Regions from separate parts of the Homo sapiens genome. Here all the other regions are reported to be linked to region 1. Evidence: microRNA targets listed by miRTarBase, many of them from high-throughput screens and not tested one by one. Region 1 holds a microRNA gene; each other region holds the end of a gene's coding sequence.

Evidence for each region. Region 1 holds the annotated microRNA hsa-miR-1227-3p (CGUGCCACCCUUUUCCCCAG, at 3,324-3,343, opposite strand). A microRNA usually pairs through its seed, bases 2 to 8, with sites in the 3' UTR of a target mRNA and lowers its output. Matches are read on the target gene's strand: a 7mer-m8 pairs with bases 2 to 8, a 7mer-A1 pairs with bases 2 to 7 and ends in A, and an 8mer does both.
Region 2: miRTarBase lists SLC12A8 as a target of hsa-miR-1227-3p. Seed matches in the 3' UTR shown: 8mer at 1,421-1,428.
Region 3: the mRNA of TRDMT1 is a reported target of hsa-miR-1227-3p. Seed matches in the 3' UTR shown: 7mer-A1 at 953-959.
Region 4: the mRNA of SLC25A15 is a reported target of hsa-miR-1227-3p. Seed matches in the 3' UTR shown: 7mer-m8 at 719-725 and 7mer-m8 at 1,857-1,863.
Region 5: miRTarBase lists DDX19B as a target of hsa-miR-1227-3p. The part of its 3' UTR that is shown has no 7-base or 8-base seed match.
Region 6: miRTarBase lists C1GALT1C1 as a target of hsa-miR-1227-3p. Seed matches in the 3' UTR shown: 7mer-m8 at 376-382.

What each region holds. Positions count from the first base shown.
Region 1 is chr19:2,230,739-2,235,915 of GRCh38, forward strand. It overlaps MIR1227 (microRNA 1227), which reads right to left and starts at 3,411; the gene lies at 3,324-3,411. PLEKHJ1 (pleckstrin homology domain containing J1) reads right to left here. Exons shown (of 6, transcript NM_018049.3): 3 at 5,024-5,090; 4 at 3,412-3,502; 5 at 3,260-3,323; 6 at 2,415-3,167. The coding sequence ends at 3,102. MIR6789 (microRNA 6789) reads right to left here; the gene lies at 5,091-5,177. DOT1L (DOT1 like histone lysine methyltransferase) reads left to right here. Exons shown (of 28, transcript NM_032482.3): 28 at 1-1,840. RefSeq lists enhancers at 3,816-4,395, 4,398-5,006 and a silencer at 5,032-5,177.
Region 2 is chr3:125,079,927-125,085,103 of GRCh38, reverse strand. It overlaps SLC12A8 (solute carrier family 12 member 8), which reads left to right. Exons shown (of 14, transcript NM_024628.6): 14 at 1,052-2,460. The coding sequence ends at 1,214. LOC124906278 (a long non-coding RNA gene) reads left to right here and starts at 3,038. Exons shown (of 3, transcript XR_007096045.1): 1 at 3,038-5,177.
Region 3 is chr10:17,146,254-17,149,253 of GRCh38, forward strand. TRDMT1 (tRNA aspartic acid methyltransferase 1) reads right to left here. Exons shown (of 11, transcript NM_004412.7): 11 at 1-2,887. The coding sequence ends at 2,787. Among named protein-coding and RNA genes, the nearest start is that of CUBN, 18 kb to the left of the region's middle.
Region 4 is chr13:40,809,497-40,814,673 of GRCh38, forward strand. SLC25A15 (solute carrier family 25 member 15) reads left to right here. Exons shown (of 7, transcript NM_014252.4): 7 at 47-2,964. The coding sequence ends at 171. MIR621 (microRNA 621) reads left to right here and starts at 1,270; the gene lies at 1,270-1,365. It also overlaps the pseudogene TPTE2P5.
Region 5 is chr16:70,333,249-70,336,248 of GRCh38, reverse strand. DDX19B (DEAD-box helicase 19B) reads right to left here. Exons shown (of 12, transcript NM_007242.7): 12 at 944-2,728. The coding sequence ends at 2,667. DDX19A-DT (DDX19A divergent transcript) reads left to right here. Exons shown (of 5, transcript NR_039997.1): 3 at 2,289-2,429. Among named protein-coding and RNA genes, the nearest start is that of DDX19A-DT, 12 kb to the left of the region's middle. RefSeq lists an enhancer at 2,470-3,000.
Region 6 is chrX:120,623,472-120,626,471 of GRCh38, reverse strand. C1GALT1C1 (C1GALT1 specific chaperone 1) reads left to right here. Exons shown (of 2, transcript NM_001011551.3): 2 at 1-798. The coding sequence ends at 262. Among named protein-coding and RNA genes, the nearest start is that of C1GALT1C1, 5.1 kb to the left of the region's middle.

The sequences.
Region 1 (5,177 bases):
AAGCGAGGGGAAAAAACCTTATTTATTCAAACAGTGCACAAAATGGCCCCAGCGTCAGCCCCGACCCTAGACCCCTCAGTTGCAGCTCCCAGCAGCCCAGACAGAGCTGCCGGCGCCCCTGCCTGCCCCACATCCCTTCCTGTCAGGGCCACGCCTGGCACCCATCCCTTGGAGCCTGTGCTGGTTCTCCCAGCTGCTGTGGGTGTGCTGGGGCCAGGGTGCACTGCTGAAACCTGGCCTCTCTGGCCCTAGGCCCCAGGGTGACGTCGGCCCCCCACTCTGCAGCCTTGGCGGGTGCCTGGGACTGGGTGTGGAAGGAGAGGAGCTGAGGCCGGGGTGTAGCAGGCAGGCAGGGCCACTCCAGTGCTTCTGGAGCCCTGAGCAGTCAGGGCCTGGGTTGTCTGAGCAGTGGTGGCTCTGTGCCCTCCCTGGAGGATGGGATCTGGGAGTCTGAGCTCCCCGCATCTGGCCCTGGGCTGTGTGGCACTTGCTGAGCCCACCTTCTCAAGTGCTTGCTCCTGTGAGATGGCATCGGGGAGCCCCTTCCCCAAGGTGCCACAGATCCACCCTCCAGGGAGCTGCCAGCCCTGTGTTCTGGTTCCCAAGGGCAGGATGGACACACGTCACATCCCTACCACGTGGCCTCCAAAGGGAGCCACGGAGGAAAGGCTTCTGTGGTTGCTAGGTGGGGGAGTCCTGTGTGGGAGGGCCTGAAGACCCCTGCTTGTGCCTGGTGAGGGGGGTGCTGCCTCCCCCAGCCCCCAACAACCTCTCAGACCCCCACCCTCCAACATAGCTGAGTTCTGAAGATGGTGCTCCGGACCTGTCCTCTTAAGTGGTGCCCAGTGCCCTCCCCACCCCACGTTGGTGCTCTCAGCTAGAAGGTGCTGTGCCTCTGCCTGAGCCCCAAGCCCCGAGCCTGGCCTTCAGGACAGGCAGCCTGCTCTGTGTCGCCACGGGCCGGATACGCCACAGGGTTGATGGCAGAGACGGCCGAGTCCCTGGTCTAGAACAAGACACATTCTTTAAACACTGTATTACTTCTGCCTCCCTCTAGGTGACAGTGGCAGTCCGGGTGCCATCACGGGTCCTGCAGATGGCCATGCAGGGCTCCTGCCCACGCAGGCCACCGTATGTTCAGGACACGCACTGGGTCTCAGAGCCACTGGCCCAGGCAGAAGTCTCCTTGAGCCCACTGGGTCATATGCGTGTCACCACACGTGAACTAGTGTGGTGGCTGCCTGCGGACACCCTCCTGTTCTGAGCCCTGGGCCTGTGTTCTTCTCAGACACTCCCAGACTGAGGGGTGGTGTGTGGCGGGTGGCAGGGTGGCTGTGGAGACTGGGGATCTGGAGCCTGGTGCTGGCACCTGGCCTGAGTTTCCGTGGGCAGCTGGCGGGGACCTGTGCTGCTGCTGCTGACTGTGGGTGGGCGGGCGGCGCCTGGGAGTGGCTCTTGCTCAGGAATTGATAGGAACCCTAAAAACTAGGATACCCCCTCCTCGGCCCATGAGGCACGCACAGTGACTTATTTAAGACTTCCCCCTTAATTTATCTGCCCCCAGGATGCGTCAGTCTGTTCAGTGGTCAGCAGGCCCCCCACCCCCCGCCGACTGCCCTCGCCATCGTGGTCAGACCCCCCTCCCAACACAACACGCTGCTGGTCTGTGTCAGCCTTTGTAACGTGGGAGGCTCTGCCGTGTCTTCCGGGTGAACTGTATTTGGATTGCGCGCATTGTCACGGTCCGCCCCTGGGCTGCAGGCGCCCCTTCCTCTGGGCACCCCTGCATTCTGCATCCCCACCTCTAGACGCTGTAATAAACAGACTGTTTTCACTCGGACCTGGTGTGAATGGCAGCCTTTCTTCCAGGTGGCATGAGGCGTCTCCTGGCGGCCAGTGAGAGGCCCCGGCTAGTGTGTCATCGCCGAAACGGGGAGTGGAGGGCCTAGGGGTGCTCCTAGCAGAAGCTCCGGGGGCTGACACCAGGACACCCTGGCCTTGGGGAGGCTTATGAGGGCACCAGGCCACAGGCAAGGGGAGGCTTATGAGGGCACCAGGCCACAGGCAAAGTGCCTTTTGATGAACGGAAAACCAGATCTGCGACCCCAATGACATCGGCAAAGTCCTTTTCACATCAGATGGACCAAAGCCCGCCCAGGCCCCAGCCACACTCCGGGAGGGCCCGTGAATGCCAGAGGCAGGACCCCAGGTCACCACAGGATTCCTGATACCACACAGCAGCTCTGTTCTCCCCAGGCCTGGGTCCCAGCCTCCACCTGTCCTGGCTGGGGGTTCTAGCTCTCCCCTCAGTGCAGGAGGCCCAGCCACTGCCTCTCAGGACCCTGAGCCTTACTTCCCTTGGGTGGGGGCTCCCTGGCTGCCCCTCCCCTCTCCTTCACTTCACCGCCATCCAGTGTGGAAAAGAGGTACCTTTATTTGAACAGAACAAGCACCCTGGCCCCAGGGCAACCACTTCCCCAGGTGCACAGCCAGGGCCCTCCTGTCTGCAGGAGAATTCACAGCTGGTGTGGGACTCAGCCCCTAGGCCATTCACAGCTTTGTCTGGCTCTGTACATTCATTCAGCACGGGGCAGGGGGGCCATGCCACCAGCCTGGGGGCTCACCAGGCCCCTGGATGCACACAACTCAGGCAGGGCACCTGTGGGAAGGCGCATATCCTGGCGGCAGCAGCACGTGGCACCAGGTGCCAGGCCAGTTAGGTGGATCCTGGGGCCCCAGGGAGCGCAGCTTGCTGGGCAGTTTCATAAAATGCAGCCCCTGCCCACACCCACCTGGCTTCAGGCTTTGGATGTCTCCAAACCAAAAACCTCCCACTGAAAATCCAGGTGTGATGGCCGGGTGTGGCGGCTCATGCCTGTGATCCCCGCTACTTGGGAAGCTGAGGCAGGAGGATCACTTGAGTCCAGAAGGTCAAGGTCACAGTGAGCTGTGGCACCACTGCACTCTAGCCTGGGCAACACAGTGAAACCCTGACCCAAAAACCAAAAACCAAAACAAAACAGATCCAGGCATGGCCAAGCGATTCATGGCTGGGCAGGGCCAGTCCCGTCCCGCTGCACGCTGACCACCGTGCCCTGCGCTCACGCCTGCAAGCCACTCAGCTGGAACCTGGCCTCCTCGGATATGCCGAACTGTTCCAGGGGGTCCTGTGGGGAGGACGGGTGGCCATGAGCCAGGGCTGGAGGACTGCCTCTGCCACCTGCAGCCCCACCCCGGCCCTCTGCAGCCCTGCACACACCTTGCCCGTCACCTTCCGGATTTCGTTCCTGTAGAAGATGAGGCTTCTCCGCATGAACTCGTAGCTGGGGAAAAGGGTGGCACGGGGTCAAATGCCCGCTCTGCATGGCTGCTGTGCCCACCCCAGCAGTGCCCACCACCGCCTGGCCCCACCTGGCCCGACGCAGAGCCTCCATCCACTCCTGACACTGCTCCTCGCTGCTGCACTCAAAGTGATACTTCCTCTCAGGGTCCTCAATGAAGCCTGGGGATGGAACACCTGTGGTCGGTCCTACCCACAGCCACAAGCAGCTTCCTCTTGCCATTGCCCATAAACTGTCCCTTCTCTGGCCCCCACAAAGATGTGTTCATGTCCTGACCCCCCAGAACCCATGAGTATGGCCCTGTATATAAACAGGGTCTTTGCATATAAACTAGTCAAAATGAGGTTGTCGCCAGGTGCGGTGGCTCATGCCTATAATCCCAGCGCTTTGAGAGGCCAAGGTGGGAGGATTGCTTGAGCTCAGGAGTTCGAGACCAGCCTGGGTGACATGGCAAAATCCCCATCTCTACAAAAACAAAAATTAGCCAGGTGTGGTGGTGGGGCCTTGTAGGCCCAGCCACTCCGGAGTCAGAAGTGGGAGGACTGCTTGAGCCAAGGGGGTTGAGGCTGCAGTGAGCTGTGATCACGCCACTGCACTCCAGCCTCGGAAACAAAAGATCCTGTCTCAAAAATAAAGAGGGCCGGGTACGGTGGCTCAAGACCGTAATCCCAGCACTTTGGGAGGCCGAGGTGGGAGGATCACCTGAGGTCAGGAGTTCGAGAGCAGCCTGGCCAATATGGCGAAACCCCGTCTCTACTAAAAATACAAAAATTAGCTGGGCATGGTGGCGCGTGCCTGTAGTACCAGCTACTCGGGAGGCTGAGGCAGGAGAATCACTTGAACCCGAGAGGGGGAAGTTACAGGGAGCCGAGATTGCACCACTGCACTCCAGCCTGGGCGACATACCAAGACCCTGTCTCAAAAAATAAGCAAATAAAATAATAAAGTGAAGTAAAAAGGGGTTGTCAGGGTGGGCCCTAAATTCTGCTTGGCGTCTGTGTAGAAGGGGAAATGTGGGCACAGACGTGATGCAAGGAGGACAAGGTGACGCTTCCACAAGCCAAGGAACCTGGAGGATACTGGCCACCACTAGGAACTGGGAGATTCCCCTCGGCCTCAGAAGGATTCGGCCCCACCCACACCTTCATCTAGGATTTCTGGCCTCCAGAACTGTAGAGAATGTTTCTGATATTTAAGCCACCTGGCCTGTGGAATTTTGACAGCCACTCTGGGCAAACTAGCAGGGACTCCATCTTTCCCCGCAGAAGGGAATCTCTTAAGACCCAGGAGAACACCCCCCTCTCACTCCTCCTACCCCCACCTGGGATTTCCAGCCCGGGGCCATATAACAATGCTAGACCCATGCTACTCTTGGCAGCTGGGGAAACGCTTTGGGTGGGGCTGGCCCACCTGCCCTGTAAGTACAGCCTGGGCCCACAGGGAACAAAGAGCAGAGTCTGGGAGGGACCCAAGCTTAAGTGGACTCGGCAGGTGGGAAGGGTGGTGCCCGCCAGGAGAACTTGACCTTGAGCTGCCCGTGGACAATGCACTCTTGTGTTTGAGGAGGGTGGCGCCAGGCTGGGGACACAGAGGAGACCTTGGGCGCCCGGGGAGGGGAAAGTGCGGCGCTGCGGGTGCCCCGGGCTGCGGGAAGCGCCGCTGGCTTCCCTAGCCCCACTCACTGATGGAGAAGGTGCCGGGCTCTTCCCGGACGACTCTGCAGCGCTCCAGCAGCAGGGCTCCGACGGGCTGGAGGAGACACGGGCGCCGGGACGGGGCAGTGAGCACCCGGCCTCCGAGGGGCCCAGCCTGGGACCCGCCCGCGCGCCCGGGACG
Region 2 (5,177 bases), not on the chromosome of region 1:
TGTTCTCAACAACTGGCTGTAATGCCATAGTCATGTGATCTGAACTTCTATAGCAGGACATTTGGCCAGAGTCCGTTGAAACTTTCTGTTTAAGTTCCACAGATCAATAACATTAGATTTCTACCTTTTCGCAACTCTCAAATGTATTCCATATTCAAACAATTGAAACTTATTACTCATAAAGTAGATGATTCTTTTAGAGTAAAAATTTTAAGAGGAAATCCATGTCTAAGGTATGACTTACAGACCTAACACAGACTATAGGAACTGGAAGAGACCCGGGAAGATGAGAAAATAGAGACACAAGAAGGTAAAGAGGCTTCTGGAGGCCACCTAGCTGATTAGGGATGGAGCTGTGACTGGGTCTGCCTTCCGTAGCAGCTGCCTGGACAGCCAGCCTGAGCTTTCCTCACTCCTTTCTTCCTCTTAGCACTTTCCCTATGCATCCCTAACATTTTTCTTTCCCAGTTTATTCCAACCGAAACTGTATGCAGAGACTCCAGTGACAGTGGGATCCATATGGGACTTGCTCTTCACCTGAGGCCACCTTGGTGTCAAAAGCCTTTGCAGTCCCTCTTAGCTGCTTGCTGTGTGAGCCTTAGCTCTTGAAATCACTCCTTATTCAACTTTCTTTTCAATAGACCTACGAGAATTTTCTCTTTCTGCTCTTCTCAATTTTCCAGCCTCTCCATTCCATTATTTTTGACAAAAAAAAAGGCAAAGAAAAGCTACAGAGCCCCAACATGATACCATTTGGAGGGCAAAACCTCTCTTTGTTGGTTATTTCCTATCAGGTAGGTACAGCTTTATACTTTTCTACTTAGGGAGGGTAAATATCACTCTCTCTGTCTCTTTTTATTTTATTTGATACTTTGTATTTCTCATGCTTTGAGTTCATATATACCTGTACATATACCTTTCAAGAATTATGTTTTAAACATTTAAATACATGTGTGTTTACAGATAATTTCTTTATGCCCAGTAGACTCACCTCTACTGTTCAGTCTCTGTTCTGTCCTTCTCACCATCCTCTGTGTCTCTCTCACTGCAGGAGCTTGCGGTCCCCTCAGGAGCAGATCATCTTGGCGCCGTCCCTGGCTAAGGTTGACATGGAGATGACTCAGCTCACCCAGGAGAATGCAGACTTCGCCACTCGGGATCGCTACCACCACTCCTCCCTCGTGAACCGGGAGCAGCTGATGCCTCACTACTAGATGCAGTGCTGGGACCTTCCTCTTTTGGAGCTGTCCCATGTACAGTGGACCCAAGCTCAGGACCTTCGTGGAGCTGCTTCTCCAACCTGAGAAACTCAAGACCCATCCTCCCGCTGTCACTTTGGACAATGGAAATCTACATTTTCTTTTCCCTTTTTTTTTTTTTTTGAGACAGAGTCTCGCCCTGTCACCCAGGCTGGAGTCCAGTGGCACAATCTTGGCTCACTGCAACCTCTGCTTCCCGAGTTCAAGCAATTCTCCTGCCTCAGCCTCCTGAGTAGCTGGGATTATAGGCATGCACCACCACACCCAGCTATTTTTTGTATTTTTACTGGAGACAGGGTTTCACCATGTTGGCCAGGCTGGTCTCGAACTCCTGACCTCGTGATCCACCCGTCTCAGCCTCCCAAAGTACTGGGATTACAGGCGTGAGCCACCATGCCTGGCCAGAAATCTATGTTTTCTTAGAACATGTGGAAGAAGGAAAAAGACAAAAAAGGAAATCTGGATTCTGAGGACCACGTCTCACCCAGGGTGACATCAGGAATGGTGCTAGCCTCTGCAACACGACACCCAGTCTGAAGAGCTCTATACAGGTACTAAGACTAGCAGGGGACACCAAGACTCTGCACAACCAGATTGCTTGTGCAGAGGGCCACAATAAGTGTATGTTTTATATTTTATTGTATTATTTATTCAAAAATAAATAATACACTCACATGTTTCCACACCCAAAAGATATATAGAGTGAAAAGTCTCCCTCCAATCCTTATTCTCCACCTGCTCAGTTCCTGTCTACCCTGGCCTAGAGGTAACCACTATTCTCATCCGTACATCCAGCATTTCTTTATGGATATACAAGCAAATGGGAATGTAGAGTCTCACATTCTCTCTTTATACACAAAAGTTAGCACGTTATACACATGTTCTGCACCTTGCTTTTTTCCCTTAACAATCTATCTTGGAGACATTTCATATCAATTCATATGCCATTTGTTCATTTTTTTCATTGTATAAATGTGTTATAATTTATTTCGCCAGTTCCACAATGATGAGCATTTGGATTCTTTCCAATCTTTTGCAATGACAATCAGCTCTGCAGTGAATAATCTTGTACAAATGTGCAAGCATAAAGTGTATCTCTAGGATAAATTCCCAAAAGTGGAATTGCAGGATCAAAAGGTACATGCATTTGTAAACTATTATTGTTTAGTGAGGGTCTTTTTAATTAAAGAATTAACATGAATTGCCTAATGGTGACTCATATTCTCAAAAGAATTTGTGGTCCTCAACTCCTGGAATGCCTTCGCAGCTGTTTTGCAACATGAAAGGCATGAGGGGACAGGACTCTTTTGGTTTCCTTATGAGCTCTGCCTGACATTCATCACAAGCACCCAGTACCGGGGGCCGTGGCAGTAGCTTTCCCCAGAAAAGTTTAGCACTTGGCCCAGGGTCAGAGGCTTCGCCATCAAGCCATGGAGGAAAGTACTGTTGGATCACTTCTGGCTCCTTCTTCTATAGTGGAGGTTCTCATGAATCAGTGGGCTAACAATCACCTGGGATGCTTGTCAAAAGTGCAGATTTCAGGCTGGGCTTGGTGGTTCACGCCGGTAATCCCAGCACTTTGGGAGGCTGAGACGGGTGGATCACTTGAGGTCAGGAGTTCGAGACCTGCCTGGCCAACATGATGAAACCCCGTCTCTACTAAAAATACAAAAAATTAGCTGGATGTGATGGCGGGCACCTGTAATCCCAGCTACTTGGGAGGTTGAGGCAGGAGAATCGCTTGAATCTGGGAGGCAGAGGTTGCAGTGAGCCGAGGTCACACCACTGCACTCCAGCCTGGGCAACAAGAGTGAAACTCTGTCTCAAAAAAAAAAAAGTGCAGATTTCTGCATCTCACCCCTAAACTTTTTATTTGGCAAGTCTGAGATGGAGTCCTAGACTTTACATCTTTAACAAGTGCCTCAGGTGATTCAATGCAGGCAGTCCTTGGACCGCATTTTGAGAAATGCTGAGCTGTTGAATGGAAGGGGCTTAGTGTGGGTGAGGGCTGGGAAGGTCAGGATGAAGGGTCAGCTAGATCCTAATGTTCTCTCCTGGAAGATGAGGTTTCATTTATTATTACTGTTCTCACAATCTGGCTTTAGTTAAATACCAGATTTCTGAGCATCATTAGAAAGCAGAGTCTGAGTTGGCAGTAGGCATGTAGGAAGGAGAAATGCTGAAAAAGGTTGTAGCTATGAAGGGCTAAGTTGGGTGACCTTGGAGGACCTTTTTATTTATTTTTGAGACAGGGTCTCACTCTGTCATCCAAACCGGAGTGCAGTGGCATGATCATAGCTCACTGCAGCCTCCACCTCCTAGGTTCAAGTGATCCTCTCACTTCAGCTTCCTAAGTAGCTGAGACTACAGGTACACACCACCACGCCTGGCTAATTTTTTTGGTATATTACCCAGGCGCTTTTTAAGAAGAAGCTGTTCTAGTTTCCTGTGGCTACTATACCAAATTACATAAATCGGATGGCTTAAAAACAACAGAAATGTATTCTTTCACAGTTCTGGAGGCCAGACATCTGAAATCAGTAACACTTAGGTTAATTCAAGGTGTCAGCAGGGCCGAGCTCCCTTCAGAGGCTCCACGAGGGATTTATTCCCTGCCTCTTCCAGCTTCTGGTGGCTTGTGATCACATCACCCAAATCTTTAAAGCCAACATTTTCAAATCTCTCTGTTCCATCTTTACATCACCCTCTCCTCTGTGTATATGAAGTCTACCTCTGTCTCCTTTCTGTAAGGATACATGTGATTGCATTCAGGGACCACCCAGATAATCCAGGATCCTCTCCACATCTCAAGAGCTGTACTTTAATCACATCTGCAAACGCTTTGCCAAAAGAGGAAACATTCACAGGTTCCAGGGAATAGGACGTGGGTCTTTTGGGGGGCCCTTTTTCAGCCTATCACAGAACCTTTACTGAATCTGCTTTTTTGAATTCTACATAACAAGCTAAAAAAGTAACCACTCTGTTTAAGCCCTTTGGGAGCCCTCATTGCCTCCCCATTGATGGATTAGGTAAGGACATGATCTAACCTTGGCCAAGAGCACCTGAGATGGGGTCTCAGGGCTTCCAGAGATGGTTGCCCTTTCTCATGGATATTGTTGGCCCCACACATGATGCCTGTATGAGACTCATCGAGTTTCCAACTCTTCTAGCCCAGGAGTTGCCTGCCTTACACTGCCCTGGATTGTGTGACAAAGAGTTTAAGCCACTTCAATCCTGGGGTTCCTGCTCATTGCATGGGATGGATTGAGAACAGTATCAGGCACTGCTCGCCTTAAGCACCAAGTGCAGGAGCCACCTGTGCTCCCAAGGCGTGTGCTTCAGTTGGTGCTTTGTCACAGTCATTTACTGGTGATAGTTTAATAGAGAAGGGAAGGCTTTTGTGGGGAGTCCTGACTTTGCTTCAGAAAGGACAGCAGAATGGTAAGGAATAGGTCAAAATTCAGGTATGGTCTCATTTGCATTGTTGCCCAAGAGCTTCCTGGAAAGAGTACAGAGCTCTGTGGGCCAAGTCTTGTGGCCTAGATATCATGACTACATGTTGGGCCTAGAGCTCAGCCTGAGGGACCATAGTTGTCGTGACAGCCTCCAGTAGTTCCTGGAGCAGCAAGAATAAGGTCTCTTGTTTACAGAGGTTGTCCCACACTCCTCAGCAGTGTTGAGAAGAGGTTGTCTCCAGCACCTCCCTAGGAGACTGGTCTCAAAAGTCTAGAAACCAGTAATCAGATGTCACTCACTGTAGGATACAAGTGGAATGATATTCTACTAGGAAACAAGCATTTCTAAAAAAATTACAAAAATGTAAACTGGTAACTCTGATAAATGCTTAAAGGTGACATCTCTGATGGTGTCCATCAAGACTAAGCTTGATTCTCTCCATTTGAAGACCTCTGGGTCAGT
Region 3 (3,000 bases), not on the chromosome of region 1:
TTTGAGGAAGAATAAGTTGGCTGAAGGTTGGAGGTATTTTCTCATCTTTCCAGACATAGGGCAGTGCCCATGGTGAAGGTCTGATTTCACAGACAGAACACCATGGCCAGGGTCCTCTGTGAAGGTGATGCCATCATTCCTCTTTCTTGCCTGCCACTGAGGATTGTCAGGCTCTGACCCCTCCTACAATGACTACCCACCTCTTCGAAATCATTTTCCAACTATGACTCATTTTGTTTACATTAATTGATTTGGTCATCTCTTAGAATTAGTTTTGGATCCTGAAGACATACTAAAAATATGAAGCAGGGTAATAAATACCTTACAATTATCTGGCAAGCCGTTTAAAAGAGCAGGGATGATGGGAAAAGGAGAACGAAAAATCGGTTTACTGTAAGGTATGGTGAAGACTGAATTACACATAGTTCTCCTGAAAATGAGAAGCTATGTTTTCCAACATCTGAATAAATGTACAAGTCCAAATATCAGGAAACAGAATTTCCAGTGCAAATTTTATATACAGCATTATTACCAAAAGCATATAGCAGACATTCCATAAAATAACATTTTCCAAATTAATTATGCATACATATACATCTGCTAATTGAATGACACTGGTAGATACATCTTCATTAAGATGTGAGTTTTATGCTTGTTACTGCATATTTTCAATTATGAATTAAGGGCAAGAATCACCGTCTTCCTGTGAATACATTCCCATAATTTAAGAATTCCACTAAGCTACATTCTGTCTACCAGTTTGTAAGCAAATGTCTCTACAGACCTTTCAAGTATTTATAGTTGGTGCACAGTAACTCGACACTTATTTTGTATAATGTTGCTCAACCGAATGTGGGATACTATAATTATAGCATAATTATTCATAGTTACAGTAAAACTCTAAACCATTTTATTTAGAATATTTCAGCAGTGAACAGAACCTACATGAAAGTGTGCCAAAATAATTTGTGATTGTTTACTGAAATTTATGAGACTTGTAATAGGCTCTGTCTGAACACATATGAAAAATGTAGATAGTGATAGTTTCTGTATATGGGCTGGCTTACAGCTTCCCTACATTCATATTTATCTATGAGTTCTGAAAAATTGGTAATAGAGTATGATTTTTTCAATTGCAGTAAAATATACATAATGTAAAATTTATCATTTTAACTATTTTTAAATATACAGTTGCAGTGGCATTAAGTACACTCACACTGTTGTGCAACCATCCTCCCCATCCACCTCCAGAACTTTCTCATCACCCCAATCAGAAACTTTGTATCCATTATGCACTAACTACCCATTCTCCATCCCCACAGGGTGGCTTATTTCACTTCGCATAATGTACTCAAGGTTCATCCATGTCACCGCATATGTCAGAATTTCCTTCCTGCGGAAGGCTGGTACTATTCCACTGCATGCACGGAACACAATTCCTGCATCCATTCATGGGTGAATGGGATGACACTTGGGCTGCTTCTACCTTTTGGCTACTGTAAATAATGGTGTTATAAACGCTGGTGTACAAATATCTGTTCAAGTCCCTGCTTTCAATTCTTTTGGATCTATAGCCAGAGGTGGAATCGCTGAATCATAGGGTAATTCTATGTTGAATTTTGTGACGAACCTCCATAGCGTTTTCCAACAGCAGCTGAACCATTTTACGTTCCCACAAGCAATGCACAAACTTCCAATTTATCCACCTCTAAATAGCTGATTTTTAAGAAGAAAAATTTGAATTAAAATCTTGTAATATGATTTCTGGACTTGTTTCTTTTCATCTCTCTTCTCTTTGTCACTTGCTTTTATCACAAACCATAGAATTTATGATGCAAGACTTAGTTTGATTAGAAACCCTAATTCCAAGAGGTCTGCTGAGGAAGAGAGACAGAGAAAGTTAAAAGTCATAAAAGTTCATTGAGAGTGTATGTTGCTACAATAAAGAACAACTGGGGGGAGGGGAGTACTGTCATATGACATGGGATCAGAGGGCAGCTTCCTCCCTGAAATCTTAACGTCATGCTACATTCCTCAGCGTGCAAAGGCAAATTCAACTCAGAAGCTGAGAAGACAAAAACAAGCTTTGATAATAGTCAACTAAAGGAAAGTACATACAAAATGAAGAAGGAAAAATGAGTTTTGTCCTTCAGATAGAGGCTGAGGAAAATGTAGATAATGTGCACCAACAGTTTCTGTGGCCGCTTCATGGAGAGGTAATCAAACATTTAGGATTATTTTTCCTGACATATTCTTCAGTCTGCTGTATAAACTGAATGATGATAATTTGGTTTACATATCATATGCATTTGTTTAGATGAAATAAAGAAATATTTACAGGATTGGAAATTAAGTAAAACATTCAATGGGCTAGAATTAGAATCATTATTTTAAAATTAGAAATAAAAAACTTCTTTAATTAACATAAAAATATGTTATGCCTGTTATGACACTTCACAAGATACTCATGTAGACACTAAAGCTCTAGTGCTCCTTGATTTGTTTATAAAATTGTTTTTAAAAAGAATATTCCACATATATATTTATCAGTTTCATATGAAAATATACTCTCCATAAAGCATAACAATAGTTCGTATTTTATAAAATACAGTAATATAAATTTGATGAAACACATGGATTTTTTTAATAAAATCCAAATTTCTTAATAAGGACAGATTAAAATAATTTAGTTAAATTTCACCAGAATTAGTTCAAAACAGAATTTCAGAATTACTCTCTGAAAATGAAGGAATATCATATGACCATCTTTCAGAGTTATTTCAAAATTATTCATATAAGATTTTGATTAGTTTAGCTACTACATGCACGTTGAGACTATTTCCAAGTAGGCGATAACGCTGTTTCACTGTTATCTTCTCAGGAAATCCTAAAAAGACAAAGAACAATTTAAAGAAATCATTTGTAATCACAATTTCCAGAGATGAAAGGATGTATCCTTTAGTAAGGGCACAGCGGTCATTTCATAAGTAAATCACTAAG
Region 4 (5,177 bases), not on the chromosome of region 1:
CAAAGGAGGGATTGTTGCAGTCTTTGACCGCCCTTTTATTTGCTAGGAATAACGGCCTTATATTCTGGACTGAAACCTACTATGATTCGAGCATTCCCTGCCAATGGAGCACTCTTTTTGGCCTACGAATATAGCAGGAAGTTGATGATGAACCAGTTGGAAGCATACTGAAGTGTCTTGGTGGGCCTGAGCCAAGCACAGGTGTTTGAGGACTACAGTTCATCTCAGGGTTTCTTGGAGTACAAGACCAGTGTGAAGTTATTCTGATTTCTTGGGAATTTTGCTTTTTGTCTTCCCTTCTACCCTACATCTTAAACTTTATGGAAGAACCTCTATTTTGCATCATATCATTTCTGTCCATAATTGTACTGAAATAGAAAAGTGACCGCTCTTGCTCTTGGTAAAATATAGAGTGGTCAGTAGCCTTATGCACCTAATTCAAAAGGTGGAATATAGTTCTGTCAGGGCTTTTACGTAAACCTCCACTTGTACATGCAATTTGGACAGTTATGTGTTGAGGGAAATACAGTTTGGTACCTTGTTTATTTCAAATATCAGAAAAACCCAGAGGTGATCATTTCTCATGAAGATGCTTATAAATGGTTGCTTAACCCATTCTAGATGTAGGGTCTGCTTAATGTGTGTACTTTTCTAAGTGGTTGATTATTTTTTATTTTTTTGATACAGAGTCTCACTCTGTCACCCAGACTGGAGTGCAGTGGCACGATCTCGGCTCACTGCAACCTCCGCCTCCTGGGTTCAAGCGATTCTCTCACCTCAGCCTCCTGAGTAGCTGGGATTACAGGTACGCGCCACCATGTCCAGCTAATTTTTTTTGGTATTTTTTGTAGAGACGAGGTTTCACCATGTTGTCCAGGTTGGTCTCGAACTCCTGACCTCAAGTGATCCGCCCACCTCGGCCTCCCAAAGTGCTGGGATTACTGGTGTGAGCCACCATGCCCAGCCAGTGGTTGAATTTTTTAAAAAGTGTTCATGGGGTGCTTGAAAACTAAAATATCCTTCTAGATTTGTAAGACAGTATACCTGCATACTGGTGTGGCTTCCACACTTGAGTAAAAGCTTCAGAGTAGGTATCCTAGATTTCCCCAAGATGCTCTACTCTTAAAATAGTGCCATTCATTTTCTAGGTGGGATCATATTCCACGCTGACTATATTGCTAGGGGTGGCCCAGAGGGTCAGGCCTTTGGGAAATAGCATGGCCTTTACCAGCTTCCCTTCTCTCCCAAAGAACTTCCCTTCTTGGGCTTTAGATTGAGGAAGGGGCTGAGTGGTAGGCGGTGCTGCTGTGCTCTGATGAAGACCCATGTGGCTAGCAACAGCGCTTACCTTTTGTCTCTGGGTCCTGGCCTGGGGCCATCAATCCACTTTGGGCCACTCACTGTCTGCTCTGCCTCCACCAATCAGAAACCCTTCCAAGGAACAGTGAGAGCCAAAGCCAAGAGAAGCCTTCTTCCCTGTTTGGTGATTGTGTGACAGTGGGTGAACCTCTCTCAGAGAGAACTAGAAAGAACTCAGTGCTTGTACTCCACAGTGAGTAATGTCAGGTCTGACCCATCCTGAAGCCTGTCTTGCCATGCTTTTACAGTGTTGGAGGCTTCTACATTTGGTACTTGCAGTCAGTAAGTCTTAATGATGACTGTATATGTGATATGAGTTTATAAAGCAATGGAACATAAGAAAAGCAATTGTAGGCCAGGCGCAGTGGCTCACGCCTATAATCCCAGCACTTTGGGAGGCTGAGGCGGGCGGGTCACAAGGTCAGGAGTTCGAGAACAGCCTGACCAACATGGTGAAACCCCATCTCTACTAAAAATACAAAAATTAGCTGGGCGTGGTGGCACGTGCCTGTAATCCCAGCTACTCAGGAGGCTGAGGCAGGAGAATCGCTTGAACCCGGGAGGCAGAGGTTGCAGTGAACTGAGATTGTGCCACTGCACTCCAGACTGGGTGACACAGCGAGACTTCATCTCAAAAAAAAAAAGAAAAGAAAAGCAATTGTACTTCACTATGCCATATGTATGTATTCACTGACCAAAAATTCACTGACCAACCAACCAAACTCCACACTTCATCTGATCCCCCATAGACTTGGGGATGGACAGCTGTTCTTTGGCCATATGGTATAAGAGGATCATTCTTGTCACTACTTAAGTTAGCCTCATCATTTTGTGCTGCTCCAACACCAGCAGGGTATCTCCCAATAAAGTGTTCCTAAGCAGCCTGTATACTGAGTGCAAGCAGGCTATCAATTTTAATAATAGTCCATACCATGTATGTGTTTCTGTCAGCAGAATGTACATGTTGTACAAAACCTCCAGGTTCCTTAAGCTTTTTGCTGTCCATGAATCCTCTGTGGCAACTGTAATCACAGAGCCAGAAGCCAGAGGGCCAGGGATATGAGAGGCTGACAAACATCAGGGGACATCTGGGGAGGAGATCCCTGTCATGTCTCTTGTGCCATGGAGCTATTATGGCTGGTCTTCCATTTGCTTTTTCTTTAAGTGAAAACCATTTTTCTACTTTGCTTTTCTCTCCATACTTAAATGGTCAGTAGCTACTGAGTGGTGCTTTATCTGAATAGGCCTGGATCGAAGTAAAATAGAAATGGGACTGGCTTTCCACAGGAAGTAAACTGCTTCAGAGCCCACAGTCCCCTGCTCAGTGTCCGGAAAGAAGTCAGTCATCCCTGTTGGCAGTAAATCTTCCCACAGGCCGTCCATTAGAGATTTAACTAGATATGTTCAATAGAAAGAGTCTGAGGCAAGTGGAAATGAGGAACGGAAACTTAGGTTGGGAGAATATTTTTTTTTTATTCATTCTGTTTGCTTAATTCAGAGTACAGTTTGTGCTATTTCATATCTGTACTCCAGGCAGAAATATAACTTGAAAATACTGTGTCTAAAGAAATTTCAGTGTTCTATCATTAAATTATTTACTTAATATTTGAGTCTGATGAATTTCATTGAAGTTCTTTACATCCATGTTGGGAAACAACTGTCAGGAATGTTAAAGAGTTATGTATAGTAGTGTTTCAAGGCAGTGGTTTTATTGCAACAAGCATTGTTTTCTGTCAGCAAGACACCTCATGTAAAATAATTTCACCATAGGTAAGGTGACAAAAATATTTCTATGCTCTGAAGTTATGGAACTTGGCTCACTAGAATTACTTTCTCCCTCCACCTCTTTCCCTCTATTTTAAAAAATAGTTAAACTGTCTGCTTTTAAGTTTTGGATGATTCCATTCCAAGTTACTAAATTCTACTTAAGAAAACAAGTATCTGAAGTGCCAAGATGGCTGACTAGAAGCAGCTAGTGTGCGCAGCCTTCACAAGAGGAGACAGAGTGGTGAGTGAACACAAGCTCTTCAGGTTGATCATCCAGCAGGCTGTGTTGGGATTCATCAGGGAAGCTGTGGTGAGTCATGGAGAGCATAGGGGAGTAAGGAAGGACAGCTGTCCACCTGGGATTGGTGCAGAGCAAGGGGAGGCTCCCTACAGCAGGGAAAGTGTGAGTGAGTGAAGGCTCCTGGGGACTCACACTTCTGCCATGGACCTTGGCAATCCCCAGGCACAGGAGATCCTCCATGACTCCACCTGCCCTCCCCCCCCCCCCCCCCCACCCACACACACACACACCCTGGGGTTCTAGACTGACACAGAGAGCTGCTTGGAGTCTGGGCAGAGCCACTGCTCAAGCCAATGTGGATCCCTGAGCTGCTATGGCCCCGGCTGCCATAGTCCGGCCAACAAGGTAGGCCAGGCTCTCTCGTGTGCCCCTAGGATAGGGGCCATATCCATGGTGCTGAGGAGCGGACAGATTGCAGGCCTCACTTCCACTGCACCTTGCCAGGCAAGGCCCACTGGCCTGGGCCTCCATCGCAGCCATGCTACCCACTACCTGAGCACTCCAGCTAGTCACAGCCCTCATTTCTCTGGGATGGAGCTCCCAGAAGTAACCAACAGGCCCTCTGCCCTGCCGTAGCCTGTGCCCCTGCTGCCCTCAGGCTGGAGAGGGAGCAAAAAGCCCAATAGCGGTCATGGGCCTCCAGCCTGCTATAGCTGACATATGGAAAGGCAGCCCAGACTGTTTTCCACGAGTCCCTGGCCCTGCTGCTCACTGGGCAGGGTGCCTCCTGGCTTGGGCCCCCAGCACAGCTCCTGCCTGATCAGTTGGTGGTGGCTCTGTGTTTCTCTGGGATGGAGGTCCCAGAAACAACTGACAGGCCTCTGCCATTGCTGCCACCACAGTACCTGCCCTTGCTTCCCCCAGGCTAGGGAGGGAACAAAGGGCCTGATTACTTTGTCAGCATTCTACAGAGAGGAGGCCAGACTGTCTTCCGGGTTGAGTTGCCTGACCTCCCTGCTCTTCAGGCAGGGCCCCCAGCTTGGGCCCAGCAGCACAGCTGCCCCAACCCTAAGCTGAGGAGGGAACAAAAAGCCTGAGCTTGCACTGGGGCTGCAGTGTGGCAGCTTGGAAGTGCCAAGGCGAGATCTGTAGCAGGCACTAGAGCAGGAGAGGAGCCCACACTCTCAGAGTACTGAGAGTGCTGAGTTACATGAACCTGTGGGCTACCACAGCAGTGGGCATGCCTCCCTATGCAGGGCCAGCTGTCTGGAAAAGGGATGGCCTATCTCCCTACCTCAGCCTCTGCCTGAGGGAGTGCACCTGACAAAAGAAACACGGGCACAGTGCCATTGGTTGGAAGGGGCTCCCCCAGGGCCCAGGAGCGGACCTGATGAGGTGGTCACCTCTCTTCCCACCGCACCACAGAGCACAGCCAGAAACACCAGGAAATCCAAAGGAGCAAAGTGGCTAAGATCTGTCTACCGACCATTACTCCTAAGCGCCATCTACTGGAATTCAGTAGATGTAGCAAACTACAAAAATAGTTTGCTAATATACCTTCCTGTAAAACCAAGGTAAGAATTCAACCACAAATGCACAGAGCCTTGGCCCTCAGAAAACATGAAGAAATTCAGCCAACTGACTGTACTCAACTTACACCACAGTTAAAAGAATACCAACCCTCAGATGAGAAAGAATCAGCACAAGAACTCTGGCAATTCAAAGAGCCAGAGTGTCCCCTTACCTCCAAATGAGTCCACTAGCTCCCTAGCAGTGGTTCTTAACCAGTTGGAAATGGCTGAAATGACAG
Region 5 (3,000 bases), not on the chromosome of region 1:
CGGGGTTTCACTGTGTTAGCCAGGCTGGTCTTGATCTCCTGACCTCAGGTGATCTGCCCGCCTCAGCCTCCCAAAGTGCTGGGATTACAGGTGTGAGTCATTGAGCCGGGCCTTTTTGTTTTGTTTTGTTTTTTGAGACAGTTTTGCTCTCGTTGCCCAGGCTGGAGTGCAACAGCGCAATCTCAGCTCACCGCAACCTCCACCTCCCAGGTTCGGCCTTCCAAAGTAACTGGGATTATAGGCATGCACCACCAAGCCCAGCTAATTTTGTATTTTTAATAGAGATAGGGTTTCTTCATGTGGGTCAGGCTGGTCTCGAACTCCCGATCTCAGGTGATCCGCCCACCTAGGCCTACCAAAGTGCTGGTATTACAGGCATGAGCCACTGCACCCAGCCAGGAAAATACATTTAAACTCAAACTACTGTATATATACTTCGTAGACTCCATGAAACCCATCCAGTGAATTCTTAGAGGTCCAAGACCCCTGATTAATAACTGTTGGCTGGGCGCGGTGGCTCACGCCTGTAATCCTGGCACTTTGGGAGGCCAAGGTGGGTGGATCACTTGAGGTCAGGAGTTCAAGACCAGCCTGGCCAACATGGTGAAACCCCCATCTCTACTAAAAATACAAAAATTAGCTGGGTGCGGTGGCGTGCACCTGTAGTCCTAGGAGGCCGAGGCAGGAGAATCGCTTGAACCTGGGAGGCAGAGGTTACAGTGAGCCGAGGTCGTGCCACGGCACTCCAGCCTGGGCAACAGAGTGAGACTCCGTTTCCAAAAAAAAAAAAAAAGAACTGTTGACCTATACTTCTACCAGATTCCCATTCCTCCTGCTGTCAAAGAGTCTGCAGCACCCCGCTTCCCACTTTCCTTCTCACACTTGGGGCTACACCAGTAGAGAGGTTGTATGTGCTTGAGAAGGTGGGAGTCTGCTCTGCCTGTGGCCTACTAAAGAGTCTATACTTCTTTAATTATTGCCCTTGTTTTTAGTATTTCAGGGTTGGTCCACAGGACTCAGGGAAGGAGAAAAAAGTATAAAAATTTCTTTTCTTATTACAAGAATTCCAAGATGTGTCAGAGTTGACCAGAAGCATAGAGAAAACTACATAGTCGAGTACCCACCAGGGGAATGTGGTAGAATTGGCAGTCTGTTGGTCTCTTTGTAATGTCAGATTAAAGAAATCACCTGGAGGCTGACATTGGCCCCTTCCCTTCCCAGGAGGCAGATCTGGCCTAAATACGGAGATGCGTACAAAGAAGACCTAGGATCACAATCGTTCTTAGCCATCAAACTCTTCTTCCAGGTCCTAGAGAAAGTGGCCACTCTATACCAAAGCCAAAGAACTGCAGAGTACTCCTCTTGGTTGGGGTTTCATATTGCTCTTGCAATTCAGTTTCCTCTCATCTTTGCTGTCATTTCGTGGGTACCAACAGCCTTGGCCAGGTGTGAGAAGTGTCCATTACTATTGTTTGCTCTGACTATCTTGCGCAAAGATGCCAAGTAAGGCTGGAGCAAAGGCCTTGGTGATACTCTTGCCTTGGACAGATAAATGGTGGTAGTGTAGCTAGTCCCTCAGTTGCACCTGTTTGTATTCCAAAGGCAGTAAACACAGATGTTCAGAAGCCCTTTATAATCAAGATGTCAAATATCTGAAATTATTCCCCAGCTCTGACAAAACTTGCCTTCTGGGTGTGGAGACAAAACAAGAATTTGTGACTACTGCTGATCACATCTAGAACTGCCTTGAGGCTGGCCATGAAGACTTGAAACCACAATTTTCACTGAGGATCTAAACCTCAGATCACATTTGTTTGGGGCTACTGTGGGGTAAGGGGATATTAAGGATGTAAAAGGGATGTTGCAAATGCTCATGAGACCAGGTTTTGTGGCACGCTAGGGCCACCACTAATTCTCCATGATGACTTCTCCACAGGACTTGCTTAAGCACAGGCACAGGACCCACCAATAATCAGATGTGCACTCTACACAGACTGCACCCACCGAGAACAGGTCACAGTCCTGTGACACAAACCCATATACACAACCGAGAGGTTGGCATTTTGGTCCATGCTTATTTAACAAATTCCCTTCTGCTGTGGGCACTAGGACAGGGGGCTGGCAATACTCAGATGAGCTGTCCCACCCCCAAGTCCAAAGCAGCAGCTCTCAGGCCTCCTCTGCTGCCTCATGCCATTCCAAACATGATGGCTGGGCTTACACACCTATCTTACTGGAAGCCTCCCTCTCTGTGTTCCCTTTCCACCACTATTCCATTACTTCCACAGGAGCTGGAGGCTGCCCCATCCACTCCAAGCCAGAGAACAAGCAGAGGCTGCCACAGGAGATCCTGGGCAAGTAATCAGCCACAGCATCTAGATTAGCATGAAGGAAACACTGGCCAAATTAAAAGATGAAACTTCCAAAAGGTAAATCTCTGTGTATTCATGCCTAATCTTCCAAGGTTGTGTAAATAATTTTTTTCTACCATCCCCCATCATTTGCATACATTTTTGTCAAGTCCAAACATAATTTGAAGTGAGGTAGGTAGTTTCTCTCTACTTGTGCCGTTGTCCTTGGGGTGATGTCGGGGCCTGTGCCCTGAACGCACTTGTCTCCTGTGCAGGGGCAGTGCCAGGGCTGGCATCAGTGGCTGGTGGAGCTTCTCAGTTGGCTATTTTCTCAATCTCGTCCAAATCATCTGTGTCCAATCTTTCTATCTTCTTATCTGGGGGAAAGATACACAGGTCTCTACCCTGCCCAGGAATGTGCCCCATCTTGGGCCACAGCAATCATTCATTCAGCCCCAAAGGCTCCGGGTGCCTAAGCAGGGGGCAGCAGGGCCCCTAGTCACTGACAGCAACAGTCAGAGCCCCACGCCCCGAAGCCCAGTCACAGGGGAGCTGTTCTTGGAGTCCCTGGGTCCTGAAGTCTCCAGGTGTGCTCCCTGAGAACTGCCATATGGTCAGAAAGGAGGGGAGTGTGCTAGGGACAGAGCCT
Region 6 (3,000 bases), not on the chromosome of region 1:
ATTTGCAGAAAATGCAGAAGATGCTGATGGAAAAGATGTATTTAATACCAAATCTGTTGGGCTTTCTATTAAAGAGGCAATGACTTATCACCCCAACCAGGTAGTAGAAGGCTGTTGTTCAGATATGGCTGTTACTTTTAATGGACTGACTCCAAATCAGATGCATGTGATGATGTATGGGGTATACCGCCTTAGGGCATTTGGGCATATTTTCAATGATGCATTGGTTTTCTTACCTCCAAATGGTTCTGACAATGACTGAGAAGTGGTAGAAAAGCGTGAATATGATCTTTGTATAGGACGTGTGTTGTCATTATTTGTAGTAGTAACTACATATCCAATACAGCTGTATGTTTCTTTTTCTTTTCTAATTTGGTGGCACTGGTATAACCACACATTAAAGTCAGTAGTACATTTTTAAATGAGGGTGGTTTTTTTCTTTAAAACACATGAACATTGTAAATGTGTTGGAAAGAAGTGTTTTAAGAATAATAATTTTGCAAATAAACTATTAATAAATATTATATGTGATAAATTCTAAATTATGAACATTAGAAATCTGTGGGGCACATATTTTTGCTGATTGGTTAAAAAATTTTAACAGGTCTTTAGCGTTCTAAGATATGCAAATGATATCTCTAGTTGTGAATTTGTGATTAAAGTAAAACTTTTAGCTGTGTGTTCCCTTTACTTCTAATACTGATTTATGTTCTAAGCCTCCCCAAGTTCCAATGGATTTGCCTTCTCAAAATGTACAACTAAGCAACTAAAGAAAATTAAAGTGAAAGTTGAAAAATATCCCTGAGAAAAAAAACTGAAAATTACTTACAAAATTGAGTAATTTTCCTGGAAGCGAATTTAGTGTCATTCCTCAGAGCATACGCAATTTCAGTGTAACTGTCTGTACTTCAGCCTGCAGATACTGACATTGGATTGGTGCCTATGAAGAATGTCATGTCATTTAATTGTGTTGTTTCTCAGTTAATCAAGCTCCCAGCTGCAATTTGGATAAAAATGTAGTCCTGCTGGGTCAATGAGTTCTGTGGAAATTTGAAGAACTTGTTTTGGCCATCTGGCAGTTTCACTTACCTGAGTTGAATCTGTTCTGTATTTTGTTTTGTTTTGTTTTGTTTTTTTGACACAGAGTTTTGCTCTGTCGCCCAGACTGGAGTGCAATGGCACAATCTCGGCTCACTGCAACCTCTGCCTCCTGGTTTCAAGCAGTTCCCTTGCCTCAGCCTTCCAAGTAGCTGGGATTACAGGTGCCCACCACCACACCTGGCTAATTTTTTGTATTTTTAGTAGAGATGGGGTTTTGCCATGTTGGCCAGGCTGGTCTCGAACTCCTGACCTCAGGTGATCACCCGCCTCGGCCTCCCAAAGTTCTGAGATTACAGGCATGAGTCCCTGCGCCCAGCCTGTTCTGGATTTTGTTTCCTTGTACAAGTTCAGGGAATTTTCCCATGTTCACAGCTGTACCATATCTGTTTTCAGTGTGGAGGTCCTAACCTATCTACTTTGCATTACCATACCTTTTCCCAAATTTCAATGGCTACTCAGAAACTTAATCCAGTGGTAAATGCAATAGCTCCTGTACTGATAAATGTGTGAAATACTTAGAGCTGACTTGTTCTGCAATCTGGCCAGCACATGCTGTGAGTCCGCATAGAGTGTTAGAGCATGACATTTTAGAGATCAATATTTCTTGTAACTGGCCTCATGATGGTAATGGTCTCCCACAGCTTTAGCAAACCAGAAAGAAAATTTCCTTAAGATGGCCTTGGGCTTGAAGTTATTGATCCTCAGGGTAGTGTGTAAAACTTTGCTTTATTTCTGATTATTCTCATTGAGGGTTTTGGTTAAGATGAAGCGTTATTAGTTTTGAAGAATAACAAAACCCCTTTATGAAGCCCCCTAATATGTGGTCTCAGATGCAATTACTACAATCAAATCATGTTCAATGTGAGTACAGTAATAAACAGTATCTCTCAGAGTGTGACACAGCTTATCTGTCACCTTGCCCCCAACACCAGTATATTTAAAATTTTTCTATTGCATTTATCATCTTCACTTACATTAGTACATCAGAGTATCATCATAAACATGTCAGAATGCATTGCATTGTGTGTTTTGCTAATGAGTACTAAGGTAACATTGCCTTTTAAGCCAAATTGATGCTCTTGATTGTATCTTTATACATATTTTTTTTTTTTGAGACGGAGTTTCGCTCTTGTTGCCCAGGTTGGAGTGCAATGGCGTGATCTCGGCTCATCCCAACCTCCACCTCCCGGGTTCAAGCAATTCTCCTGCCTCAGCCTCCCGAGTAGCTGGGATTACAGGTATGTGCCACCACGCCCAGCTAATTTTGTATTTTTAGTAGAGACAGGGTTTCTCCACGTTGATCAGGCTGTTCTCAAGCTCCTGGCCTCAGGTGATCCGCCCGCCTCGGCCTCCCAAAGTACTGGGATTACAGGCGTGAGTCACTGCGCCCGGCCGATACTGAGTATTTTTTTAACGAAATGTTAGGTGTCTCAAATAATATGCTGTCTCTCTGAACTTACTTGCAGCCAGTCTTGCAGATAAAATCTGAATCAATAACAGAAAATAGTACTACTGAGGTTGTGGTTACAGATTTGATCACCATATATGTCTGTTAGCTTTACATAGAAAAATAATATATTCAGTAACCGAAAACAATAACCCTAACCCCACTCATGATGAGAGAGTTGGAAAAAATGGAGGTCTGATGGAAATTGATCGGGATTGTGAATATACTCTACATACGGCTAGTGGCTGTCATATTGGACAGCACAGGTCTAAGCAATTCTAAGTGTAAGATCCCACTCCTGGCTGAGATGTGAATAAGAGAAAACTTGAAGTTTCCTCTAAAAGTTGTATTTGTTTGTCTGGTTGTCTCAAATGCAATGGAAACCACAGCATGACTTTTAGCAGGCCCCAGACCATTGCCTTGTGTGAGTTCAATCACTGAATCTTCCTTTT